Linked DNA regions of Homo sapiens: region 1 is linked to region 2. A link means that fine-mapping ties the variant in region 2 to the expression of a gene that starts in the linked region. Tissue or cell type: fibroblasts. Region 2 holds a variant in brackets; the other region holds the start of a gene. All regions are shown on one strand. Distances are between the middles of the regions.

Region 1 (5,000 bases), 68 kb after region 2:
GTGAAGAACCACCCAGGCAGTGGGCAGAGGGAAAAAAATGTTCAGGGCCGGGTGCGGTGGCTCACTTCTGTAATCCCAGCACTTTGGGAGGCCGAGGAGGGTGGATCACCTAAGGTTGGGAGTTCAAGACCAGCCTGGGCAACATGGTGAAACCCCCGTGTCTACTAAAAATACAAAAAATTACGCAGGTGTGGTGGTACATGCCTGTAATCCCAGCTACTCTGGAGGCAGAGGCACGAGAACTGCCTGAACCCAGAAGGCAGAGGTTGCAGTGAGCCGAGATTGCGCCACCGCACTCCAGCCTGGGGCGGTAGTGGGGGGGTATGGGGAGAAAGAGTGAGACTCTGCCTCAAAAAAAAAAAAAAAAAAAAAAAAAAGGCCGGGCACAGTGGCTCACGCCTGTAACCCCAACACTTTGGGAGGCCGAGGCGGGCGAATCACAAGGTCAGGAGATCGAGACCATCCTGGCTAACACGGTGAAACCCCGTCTCTACTAAAAAATACAAAAAATTAGCCGGGCGTGGTGGCGGGTACCTGTAGTCCCAGCTATTCGGGAGGCTGAGACAGGAGAATGGCGTGAACCCAGGAGGCAGAGCTTGCAGTGAGCCGAGATCGCGCCACTGCCCTCCAGCCTGGGCAACAGAGCAAGATTCCAGCTCAAAAAAAAAAAAAAAAGTTCAAAGGCCCCATGGAAGAAGGTAGGAGTATGGAATATACCAGAAATCTAAATTTAAAAAAAAATGTGGGGGTGACTGGAGAGGTAGGCTGAGAGTATGCTGTGGATGGGAATGGTGGCAGGAACGTATGCTGAGTGGAAGTCAGCAGCTCAGGCAAAAAAAAAGACGGTGCCAGTATGGATGGAGAGAAGCCAGTGGGCTTGATAGATCTACGCAGAGGCAAAATACACTTCACTTCGTGAGGGACTGGATGCCCAGGTAATGGACAATATAGGAGGAATGATTTCTCAATTTCTGGTTAGCACTGAACTGAATAGATAATGGTGCCATCCGTGGAGATAGGGATCAAGAGGCCCAGACTTAGAAAGATAAAGAATTTGCTTTGGGATACGTATACTGAACTTAAAACCCTCTGAAGCATGGAATAAGCAGACAGATGACGGAAGTTTGTCTTTTAGAGTAAAGGTGGCTCTGTACAAAGAAATTTGTGAGCAACTGACATATATTAATAGATGGCAATGGAATTGCCTTGGGGCCAGGCGCGGTGGTTCATGCCTGTAATTCCAGCATTTTGGGAGGCCGAGGCGGGCGGATAACTTGAGGTCTGGTGTTCGAGATCAGCCTGGCCAACATGATGAAACCCAGTCTCTAATAAAAACACAAAAAGTAGCCGAGTGTGGTGGCGCACACATGTAGTCCCAGCTACTCGGGAGGCTGAGACAGGAGACTCACTTGCACCCGGGAGACGGAGGTTGCAGTGAGCCGAGATCGCGCCTCTGCACTCCAGCCTGGGCGACAGTGAGTGTCGCCCAGGCTGGAGAAAAAAAAAGAAATTGCCTCGGGAGTCAAGAGGGCCTAGAGGGAGCCTTGATTCAACAAAAATTTACAAAGAGGGACTTACAAATAAGACGGGGATAGACCTGCCAAGCTGAGCCACTAAAAACCAAGGAAGAGGGTGTGACCTGAAGCAAGCAGGGCTTAAACGCAAACGCTGCTGAGAACTCAGGTAAGCTGAAAACGGAAAAGGGCTGGATTTAGCAACTTGGAGGCCACTGGTACCTTCAGCCAGGGTTTTCTACAGCGATCAAAGGGATGACTGGAGTGGGTTAAAGAGTTGATGAAAGGCGAGGAAAGGAAGTGGCTGAAACCAGACAAGAAGTTTGGCTGTGGGTGGGGAAAGGAGAAGAGACAGAAAGTGTCCGCAGGTGGAAGATGCAGAGAAAGGCAAGCGTTTATTTAGTTTGTTCTTACGTAGGAAAAATGTGAGCATGTTTTAAAGACGATCGAAAGAATGCTTTGAGGAGGGGGCGATGACACTAGAGGGACGCCCGGCGGGTCCCCACCGCCCCCCGCCATCTCCTCCCCTCGCGTTCATCCCCCGTCGCCCCGGGCTCCCCTCCCCCTCTCTACTCCGCGAGGCTCGGGGCCGCAGCCACCCCGGACCGCCGGCCCAGCCCCCGGCACCTCCTCACCGCAATGGCCCCCTCGCTCAGTTGGCCGACCATGGCTCCACCGCCAAGACTTCCCCGCGGACCCCGCAACAGCTCCAGCTTCCCCACCCGGGTCCCGCGCGCTGCGCAGTTATTGGCCCGAGAAGTTGCGCGCACCGCTCCCGCCCCCGACGTGCGCGCGGCTCAGGGGCGGGCCCGGGCGCTACGCAGCCGCCGCATTGGCCGAGGCGCGGCCCACGTGACCCACCCATGGTCCCAAGCGAGGCCTGGCGCGGGACGCCGGACGCGGTGCGGGGCGGAGCGGGGCGCCAAGGGGCGCGCCAGGAGCTGCGCGGGCGCTGGGAGGGAGACCAGGGCGCAGTTCCGGGCGCGTCTGAGCGGTTCTCGAGGCGTTCTCGCCTCGGTCTCTGGCGAGTGCACGGGTTGGTATCCCAGAGGAGGTTAAAGCTGTTCCTTGAGACCTCCGCTGCTAAATAGAGTCGCAGTAGTGACCCGATTCGTCCAGCAACGCGGGGCTGACTTCCCGCCTCCAAGCCCTGAGCTTGGCACCGTGGCGGTGGGGGGTGGGGGTGGGGGGTCTCCGAAAGGGAATCAGACCCGGCCCCCGTCCTTAGAGAAGAGGACAGTGTGTGGGGGCACTTTATGCCGTCAGTAACCCCACCTCCAGGTAGACGTGGTACAGGCCCCAAGGGTGTTGGAATCACAGCTGGGAAATCAGGGACGCCGTCCCGGAGGAGGTGCCATTTGAGCCGAGTCGAAGAACGTGTGGGAATTTTCCAGGTGGACTCCATAAGCCAGGGTAGGGTTGGTCCGGAAAGCATGAGTAGCCTATGCCAAAACATTGGAGAGTTGAAATAGCCTGGCAAGCCGGGGATAGCAATGAGTTGTTCAGTATGCAAGGGTGCATGCAGAGGAGTAAGTGACACCTGAGAATTAGAAAGTCAGACAAGGGTCAAGTAAGGATGGTTTTGTCCTGGGCTTCCTGGTATGCTTGGAGTAGCGTTGATGAATTTAAGGGCAGAGCACTGACTTCTGTCTCAGTGTTGGAGGCTGGATTGAAAGTGGGGAGTGGTGCCAATGGCATGGACATTAATTATAACACTCTAGGAAGAATGCCAGACGAGATGGTGAGGACTTAATCAGAACGCTGAACTATGTAAGAGAGGGAAATACCTTGTTAAATGAATAGTTGCTGGGGTGGGTGAGAAAGAAAAATCTGGGATGTGTCTCAGAGAAACTAGAGAGGGATCAGGCCGGGCGCGGTGGCTCACGCCTGTAATCCCAGCGCTTTGGGAGGCCAAGGCTGGCGGATCATCTGAGGTCAGGAGTTCGAGACCAGCCTGGCCAACATGGTGAAACCCCGTCTCTACTAAAAATACAAAAATTAGCCGGGCGTAGTTGCGCGCATCTGTAATCCCAGCTACTCGGAGGCTGAGGCAGGAGAATTGCTTGAACCTGGGAGGCGGAGGGTGCAGTGAGCCGAGATGGTGCCACTGCACTCCAGCCTGGGTGACAGAGCAAGACTCTGCCTCACAAAAAAAAAAAAAAGAGGATCTAAGAGCACAGATGGTAGCTATCTAGTCTGCTTCGTCTTTGTATAACCATCACCTGCATGGTGCCTGTGACAAAGTAGTCTTTCAGTAAATATTTCTGAATGGAAGGATGTTGAGTGAATTGCTGTGAGAAAATATAGATCCTTCCTTAGCATATAAACTAGAGGAAAAGACCACAAGAATTGATTTTATTGTTTCAGGCTTCCTTGAATGAAATCTTGATTTTCCTTTTTTTTTTTTTTCCGAGACAGAGTCTTGCTCTGTCACCCAGGCTGGAGTGCAATGGCGTGATCTCAGCTCACTGCAACCTCCGCCTCCCCAGTTCACGCAGTTCTCTTGCCTCAGCCTCCCGAGTAGCTGGGACTACAAGTGTGCGCCACCACACCTGGCTAATTTTTTTGTAGTTTTAGTAGAGACGGGGTTTCACTGTGTTAGCCAGGATGGTCTCCATCTCCTGACCTCGTGATCCACCTACCTCGGCTTCCCAAAGTGCTGGGATTACAGGTGTGAGCCACCGTACCTGGCTGAACTCTTGATTTTCTAAAATTGTGCATTTGTAAGATTCCTATTTTCTTACTCATTTTATAGATCAAAAGCAGCATGGATCTGCCTGTGGATGAATGGAAATCATATCTGCTTCAAAAGTGGGCTTCACTCCCGACGTCTGTTCAGGTCACAATTTCTACAGCAGAGACCTTGAGGGATATCTTTCTTCACTCCTCTTCACTTCTTCAGTAAGTAAATCAAGCTTTAACAAGGGAATTGTGAGCCAAAAAATGTTCTATTTTGTCATTTGCTCTGAAGTAATGTGTCTTTTTCTTAAATAAAGATTGAGTCTTGCTTGTTTCCCAGGCTGGTCTCAAATTTCTGGGCTCAAGCAATCCTCCCACCTTGGCCTCCCAAGGTGCTGGGAGTACAGGCGTGAGCCACCATGTCTGGCCTGGTAACATCTCTTTTTGATGGAAAATGCCTGAAGTACTTTTCCTGGTTCGTTTCTATCCCAGCGTGTCCTGTGAACTAATTCACTTCTGTCATCCTGCAGGATTAGCCAGATCTTTCCTCAGGAAAGCTCTCCCTGAGCCTCAGCTGGGCCATCTTCACTCTTTGTACATTTACAATGCTGTGTGATTTTCCTTTATATATGTGTGTGCTCTTTTGACTAATGCCTGCCTTTGCCGCTAGATTGTGAACTTCATGAGGGAAGGGACCGTGTTTGTATTTGTTTTTCTTTTTTTTTTTTTCTTTTTTTCTTTTTCTTGAGACTGTCTCGCTCTGTCACCCAGGCTAGAGTGCAGTGGCGCAATCTCAGCCCACTGCCT
Region 2 (8,320 bases):
GATCCACCTGCCTTGGCCTCCCAAAGTGTGGGATTATAGGTGTGAGCCACTGCACCTGGCCTAATGGTGGTTCTGATGCAATTTTTATCAAAATAAAGATGCCCATCCTAGGAGAAAATCATTACAAAATGATATGCTTACTATGCTACCATTTTTAATTTAAACTCTATACACATAGATACATAGAAAAAACTAGCCAGGGCCAGGCACGGTGGCTCACACCTGTAATCCCAGCACTTTGGGAGGCCGAGGAGGGCGGATCACGAGGTCAGGAGATCGAGACCATCCTGGCTAACATGGTGAAACCCCATCTGTACTAAAAATACAAAAAATTAGCTGGGTACGGTGGCACATGCCTGTAGTCCCAACTACCAGGCTGTAGTCCAGCTACATGCCTGTAGTCCCAGCTACTTGGGAGGCCAAGGCAGGGGAATTGCTTGAACCCGGGAGGTGGAGGTTGCAGTGAGCTGAGATCGTGTCACCGCACTCCAGCCTGGCGACAGAGCAAGACTCTGTCTCAAAAAAAAAAAAAAAGAAGAAAAAAGTAGCCAGCTACACAAGTGTTTATTACTGGTTGGTGAAATCCTAAGTAATTTTATTTTTCTTTTGCCTTTTTGAGATGGAGTCTCGCTCAGTCGCCCAGGCTAGAGTGCAGTGGTGCGATCTCAGCTCACTGCAGCCTCTGCCTTCCAGGTTCAAGTGATTCTCCTGCCTCAGCTGCCCGAGTAGCTGGGATTACAGGAGCCCACCACCACACCTGGCTAATTTTTGTATTTTTAGTAGAGGTGGGGTTTCACTATGTTGGCCAGGCTAGTCTCAAACTCCTAACCTCAGGTGATCCACCTGCCTTGGCCTCCCAAAGTGCTGGGATTACAAGGGAGAGCCACCGCACCCACCCTTTCTCCCCCTTTTTTTGAGATAGGGTCTCGCTCTGTCGCCCAGGCTGGGGTGCAGTGGTGCAATCATGGCTCACTGCAGCCTTGACCTCCCACGGCTCAGGTGATTCTCCCACCTCAGCCTCCCAGGTAGCTGGGACTACAGGTGTGTGCCACCACGCCCAGCTAATTTTTATTTTTTTGTAGGGACGGGGGTCTCCTTATGTTACCCAGGCTGGTCTCGAACTCCTTGGCTCAAGCGATTTGCCCGCCTCAGCCTCCCAAAGTGTTGGGATTATAGGCATGAGCCACTGTGCCAGGCCAATTTTGTTTTTCTTAACTGTAGATTATTTTCCTAAAATAAACATGGAGGCCGGGCGCGGTGGCTCACACCTGTAATCCCAGCACTTTGGGAGGCCGAGGCAGGTGGATCACAAGGTCAGGAGTTCGAGACCATCCTGGCTAACACGGTGAAACCCCGTCTCTACTAAAAATACAGAAAATTAGCCAGGCATGGTGGCACATGCCTGTAGTCCCAGCTACTCAGGAGGCTGAGGCAGAATCGCTTGAACCTGGGAGGCGGAGGTTGCAGTGAGCTGAGATCGTGCCACTGCACTCCAGCCTGGGTGACAGAGCAAGACTCCGTCTCAAAATAAATAAACAAACAAACAAACAAATATGATTACTTGCATAAGAAAGTCAATAGTCCAAATTATCCTTTTTTTTCTTAAACATTTACTTAATGTCTTAATAACAAAAATACCAGTTTTTTTGAATAAGTGAAAATTAAACATCTATGCTCTCTTTTTGAGGAACCGATGACTTCCAAAGGTGTTTATAAAAGCCAGAACTCTACCAGCGGAGTGGATATAAGACTAAGAGTTAACAAACCACATAAAAGGTGGCCGGGGAGTGGGGGGAATCTTCCCTTTGAGACAAGGAAACAATCAGTTTACTAGGGGAATAGTGGCCTTCTAACAGGTGAAAAGAAGAAAAGGAGACCAAACAACCTGTTTCATCCTCTATAAATAAAACCTTGGGCGGCATATTGCCAAAGAAACATGAGTCAATATAAACCTTTACATACTGGGCGGCCAAACTTCACTTTTGGACAGTATATTAATTATGTAGTCAATAACCATGGGTTTCATTAGTGTATTAAATACCACGATCAATAGTATTTATACTTTTTGAAGACAGCCCACTCAGGAAACAGAAGTGGGGGAGGGGAACATTTTTGACCCTGCAGTTCAAAAAAGGAACAGCACGCGAGAGATTAGCAAGGTTTTAATGGAAAGCATAAAACACTGGAAATATGGACAGAAATCAGATTATTACCCTTTTATTTTTTTCCCTGCCCCTTTCACAATGAGACTGGAGGGAATTCAAGAACCACTTGAAATAAAGGCGAAATGATTAGATTTTTTTCTCCTAATTGCCTAACGCTGATGTCATGGTGTACGCAAAATCAACATTGATCTCTAAGTGAAAGAGGAGAAACAGAACAACATCAACAGCCTTTCGAGGTAAACTGTGGGCCAGAATCTATTTAGGCAACCCGCAGGGACCAAAATCTCTGAAAAGCCCAACAGTGGAGCCAGTTTCTGATGCTCCTCTGCTGGTGATCTGATCTTTGAGTGGGGAAATCTGTTAGAAACAGCCTCCTCGAGGGAGCCCTCCCCCTGGCACTGCCCCTGGGTTCCCAATCACATCCACGGAGACGTGCTGGTTTCATCACGCTGGCCACTGAGAAGGCGCGAGGACAGGTGTCAGCGTTCCCTGGACACGTCCTGTCCTGGTACCACGGCTGGTCAGGCCTCTTCACTGTGTGGACAGACACGTGGGGAGAGGAGGGAATGCTGGGAGTAGTAGGCATGAAAGACTGGTTACTGGGCTGAAAGCTAGATCGCCACTTCCCAGCCACAATTTGTCAATCCAGAAGAGGGTTGAAGACTGTAATTTTCTCGTCGATGCTTTATAAGCAAGGTCAGACAGAAAAGAACTTCCGTAAAAATGGCTGAGGCCTCAGTCAGAGACTGAAATGCGACCCAGTTACCATCTCCTGAGACTAGAGAAGGGTAGGAAGGAATGTGTCTAAACAATTAGTGAGGCTGAGCAGGAGTCCCTCTGTGTCTGTCCTCAGGAACGGAAGTCATCCCGTCTAGGGCTGGCTGGCCCCTATGTCAACGGCAGACACCGAGGGGGGAGACAGACAGGACACCATCACTCCCCATATCCAAAAGCCTCCGCAGGCGGCATGTGCAGTGATGAACAGCAGGTCCTCTGGCTGCAGAGTGACCGCCGCACTGCCGGGGTACGACGGCGAGATGTGCGGCCAATGGCAGGCGGTGTGTTGCAGCCACCGGATAGATAATTAATATGATTAGGAACACACAGAGCGAGCATGCTTTTGCTGACTGAAAGGCCCACTAGCATAATTACTGTTTTCTTACCAGCTCACTGTCTGTACACATTTCAAAGCGTGGTTGGTGTTAGACTGCTGCGTAAACATCAATAAAATCCCAAGTGCCAGATCATCAGCATCCTCAGGCAAAATGGCTTTTTGTTTTTAGTGTTTTCATGCTTTGAAAGATGCATTTCAGGGCTGCAAACACTAGGAAGAAGGATCTCCATGCCTTGGACTAATCTTCGGGTTTATAATGAGTTAACATCCCCCCCAAGTGAACATTTATTATGAAGGCTAATTAATTGCTTTCCAGTTATAGGAACTCTTTGCATTCAAAGAAAGTAGGATTCACAACCAAAGAATATACTGTTTATTAAAACAAAGCAAGGGAAACAAAAGGCTTCAAAATCCTTTCCATGTAACATAGCTTTAGTCAAAAAAAACAAAATACATGAATGCAGGAATGTGTACAGGTAGAAAAAGTACGCACTCACCAAGCGAAGCGCAGCATTAATTGAAGTGAGAAGTAAAGAAACGCTTTGTAGCCGCTCGGATTTCCTTAGGGGACGGCAAGTCAATGCTTATCAGCGGTCCTCAGAAGAGACAATTTTGATTAATATCAGACCCATCTGACTCAGTCTATTAAA[C/G]CCTGAAGGAAGGATACTCTTCAGATATAGAAGATATGCCTTTGATTAATCATTCTACCCTATTGCCATTCCAAGCATTACCAACTATGTAGCACCTCTAGAAAGAGAGAGCCTTCGAATTCTAGGAAGACACACTTACTAAAATCCCCAGGTGCTCATGACCGCTTCTCAGCTCGCCCCGCTGAGAAGAACCCAAGTTGTGAGCGGGGATGGGGGGGGGTGGTCACCACTGGAGAAGCAAAAACCTAGTTACATAATTTACTTCATGGTCTGCAGTTAGGGTCAGTGACTTACGACATAATTCCTGCTTGATGATAATGAAATTGACAGAAGCCTGAAGGCAGAGGGAGTGACTGGTCTTGCGCTAGCCACTGGCTGACTCCGTAGGCCTGACACAGTCTACACCACAACCACCTGAGCGTATTTTCCTTTGCCTACCGATGGGTTCTGAGATGCGCACGAGGGGGGAAATTGCTTAGTCCACCATCAAGAGCCTCTGCACTGTGTAGCTAACATGGGATCGTCACACGGAGGTGGGAGGAAATCGATTCCATTCTGCCTATTTGCAAACTTCTGCCCGATTGGCACTGCTCCTCTCACATCAATGCACTTCTCCTGATGCTCATGACCAGCCTTCGGCCATACTCTCTGTAGTCCACGGGCTTCACGTCCATCACAGTGGCCTTAATTCGAGACTCGTCCTTCAAAAAGGGAGAAGTAGTTTGTGAGCAGTGAAAGTGTGGTGTGGAGCAGTGAAACCCCTTTTGCTTCAGTGGTTTCAGTGAGCCCAGCGGGAGGGAACAGACGCACGGGTTCAGAGTTCAGTCATTCCAGTGAGTGACAGCCTCCTCCTGAATGTCTGGGGCTGGGCGAGTGAACAGGTCCTTTCTCCAGCACAGGCCCTTCTGATTCTTTACCCAAGCTCCCAAACACCCAGAAGCCTAGAATCCTAGTGAGATGGACTTTAGAGGGTTTCTCTAGTTTCATTTATTCTCCCTACTGCAGGGGATACAGCCCAGAGAGGACATGTGACTTGCACAAAGCCACACAGCTAGTTCTGAAAGCTAAACTTTCAAACTTTCATTTCAAGAAAAGCTGAGTGGTGAAAGGAAGAGCACCTGCAGCAGAGGGAGAGGACCGAGTCTGTCCTGTCTCAGCTCTGGGGAGGCAGCCTCTCTTCACTTCACCTTCCCTGTCCAGACACGATGGGGCTGAATGGCCCCAAAAATCCCCCCCAGCCCCACCCCACTCCCTGACATTGTTTCACGGTGACATCTGATCCCCTATCTCATTTAATGTTTATAGTAGTCGCAGAAGAACGGGCGTTAAGGTAAATACGTGAGTAAACCCTGCAATCAGCAGGGGCGTTTCTACCACTCCCCCTGCCCACTCGTACGTTTACACTCACGGCCTGAATGGTGCCTTTCCGGGCAGAACGGAGTGATACCCAGGAAGGCTGCACAGGCGAGCTCGGGGCTGTCACACTGCTGTGTGCTTGGTCGGTACTAAATCCCGTGATACTCGTAAGCATGATCAAAAGCAAAGCTCTGAAGTCAGGCTGCCTGGGTTGGACGTTAGCTCGACCACTTGCTAGCATACAACTTAGGCAAGTGACTTGTTCTCTGAATGCCCGTGTCTCTCTGTATGTAATTCCTTCAGTGGCAAAATAGGGTAACCACAGTTTCTACATATAGGGTTACTAGGCTCAAGTGAGATGTTCCACGTAAAGGATGTAGAACAGTTACCTGGCAGACCATGCTCAATACTGTTTGATTATAACTATAACTAAGCTGGGCGCGGTGGCTCATGCCTGTAATCCTGGCACTTTGGGAGGCTGAGGCGGGTGGATCATCTGAGGTCAGGAGTTCGAGACCAGCCTGGCCAACATGGTGAAAACTCCGTCTCTACTAAAAATACAAAAATTAGCCGGGCATGGTGGCGGGCGCCTGTAATCCCAGCTACTCGAGGGGCTAAGGCAGGAGAATCACTTGAACCCGGGAGGCGGAGGTTGTGGTGAGCCAAGATCGTCCCACTGCACTCCAGCCTGGGTGACAGAGACTCTGTCTCAAATAAATAAATAAATAAATAAATAAATAAATAAATAAATAAATACTATATGGTATTATGGGCAATTTCAGGAATTTTCAAGGTAGTTTTAACCACACGTGGCCTTTGTTTCATATACTGACTGACTGACTTAGAAACGGGGTTTCACTATGTTACCCAGGCTGGCCTTGAACTGCTGCCTCAGTCTCCCAAGTAGCTGGGACCACAGGCACACACCACCACGCCCGGCTCATATACTTAATATACTTTTCTACAATCTAAATTTGTCAAAGATATGACTCTACTGCATGCGTTATAATTTTTTTGTCAGAACACAGACGAAAAAATCCTAGGATTTAACTGAAAAAAAATAAAAATAAAAAAAATAAACAAACAAAAAAATCCATATTGTATTCCCCACCCCCCCGCCATTGTTTCGACAAGACACTTAAGCTCTCTCTCCTTCCTCATCTGAAAATGGGGATCATAACAGCACCTGTGTTGGGCAAAGTCAGCACCGGGGTCTGGCAGTGAGTACAGTAACTCCCTGCCAGGGAGTGTCACGACACTGCCGTAGGTGACAAACAGCACCTCCCCACCACCAACCCTGCTGCCCAGGCCCTTACTTACGTTGTAGGTCTCCACTTTGACCCTGACTCTGAATATGAAAGATCGGAAGTTGGCATTCTGGAAAACTTCTTCAAATGCCTGTTCATTCTGCAAAAACAAACATAAAACTTGACACATGGAAACCACTGGACAACTTGCAAATACTGATAAGACTTTTAAAAAGACTTCTGAAAATGCATCTCCTGGGTAGTTTCAAATTACTTAGGAATGACTCATCTACAGGTAACATTACATGAAACTGTTTTAAGTAGAATCTTATTGAAAATTAAAACACTAATCACATTCATAGAAGGTAGAATGGCAGTTGTCAGGGCCAGGGAGAAGAGGGTTTTGGAAAAGGAGCTATTGCTTAATGTGCAGAGTTTCAAATCGCCACCCATGAACAGTGTGTCTCCATTCTCCCCTTCCCTCCATCCTTGGAAAACACAAGGCTGTCGTCTGTCTCTATGAATTTGCCTATTTAAAAAAGTACTGGAAAAGGATGGTGGTGACAGGGGCACAGTAATGTGAATGTACCTAACGCCACTAAACTGTACACGTAAAAATGGTTACAAAGGCAAATTTGGTTATGTATGCTTTACTAGACACAAAAAATTAAAAACGCTCTTAGGAAGTTTCTAAGACTTTAAGGCTGGGCACGGTGGCTCATACCTGTCATCCCAGCGCTTTGGGAAGCGGAAGCGGGTGGATCACTTGAGGTTGGGAGTTCAAGACCAGCCTGGCCAACACGGTGAAACCCCATCTCTACTAAAAACACAAAAATTAGCTGGGCATAGTGGCAGGTGCCTGTAATCCCAGGTACTAGGGAGGCTGAGGCAGAAGAATTGCTTCGACCTGAGAGGCGGAGGCTACAGTGAGCTGAGACTGCACTACTGCACTCCAGCATGGGCTATGGAGCGAGACTCTCAAAAAAAAAAAAAATTAGGAGGTCAGGTATGGTGGCGCGTGACTATAATCCCAATGTTTTGGGAGACCGAGGTGGGAGGACTGCTTGAGGCCAGGAGTTCAAGAATAGCCTGGGGAACATAGCAAAACCCCATCTCTACCAAAAAAAAAAAAAAAAAAACTTAAGCCAGGTATGGTGGCGTGTACCAGTAGTCCCAGCTACTCAGGAGACTGAGGTGGCAGGACTGTCTGAGCCCAAGAGTTTGAAGCTGCAGTGAGCCATGATCGCACACCACGGCGCTCCAACATGGGTGATGAGGCAAGACCTTGTCTCAAAAAAAAGAAAAAAAGGAAAAACACTCAGAAGAAAGTTCAATATAATTCGTGATTTCAGCCTCTGTATTTATAGCTACTGATTTGGTGTGCAAGCAGAGAAGACTGTTGAGGTGCGCAAAGGCTAGGGAAGGCCTAAAAACAATCCTTTTCCCTCTCTCACTCCTCAAATGCAATTTAAGTTTATTAAAAAAAAAAAAGTCTGGTAAACAGACAAGAATTAGAGAATATAGTTTGTATAAAGATGCATAAATAAATGTGTAATAACTATATTAACAGAGTTGATTGAGACCTTTGACAAAAAAAAAGAAAAACTAATTAATAGTTCACACCAACCTAGTGTTTTTTGCAAGTCACGCACGGCGTGAAAGCAGCTTTGCTATACAGAACTCTTTTCTGTAAAGGTTACTTGATCAAAACCCAAACCCAAACCAAATGGACTTTCAGATATGAAAATAAAACAATGGGTTAAAGCTTGAGAAAATTACACCGGCTGC

Direction of the effects. Alleles are on the strand shown, and positions count from the first base shown. SD is a standard deviation of normalised expression in the study named.
For the expression in fibroblasts of the gene that starts at base 2,271 in region 1, G is the high allele of the variant in region 2 and C is the other (small effect, 0.26 SD a copy in GTEx).

What was found. PIP is the estimated chance that this variant, and not a neighbour inherited with it, causes the effect.
Region 1: RPA1 starts here. The variant in region 2 is fine-mapped to the expression of RPA1 in fibroblasts (GTEx, PIP above 0.99).

What each region holds. Positions count from the first base shown.
Region 1 is chr17:1,827,276-1,832,275 of GRCh38, reverse strand. RPA1 (replication protein A1) reads right to left here and starts at 2,271. Exons shown (of 17, transcript NM_002945.5): 1 at 2,150-2,271. The coding sequence starts at 2,182. It overlaps SMYD4 (SET and MYND domain containing 4), which reads left to right and starts at 2,374. Exons shown (of 11, transcript NM_052928.3): 1 at 2,374-2,550; 2 at 4,270-4,415. The coding sequence starts at 4,282. RefSeq lists an enhancer at 875-1,375 and a silencer at 2,003-2,522.
Region 2 is chr17:1,893,381-1,901,700 of GRCh38, reverse strand. It overlaps RPA1 (replication protein A1), which reads right to left. Exons shown (of 17, transcript NM_002945.5): 16 at 6,606-6,692; 17 at 1,619-4,630. The coding sequence ends at 4,526. Among named protein-coding and RNA genes, the nearest start is that of RPA1, 68 kb to the right of the region's middle. The variant C/G (reference allele first, on the strand shown) is at 3,930.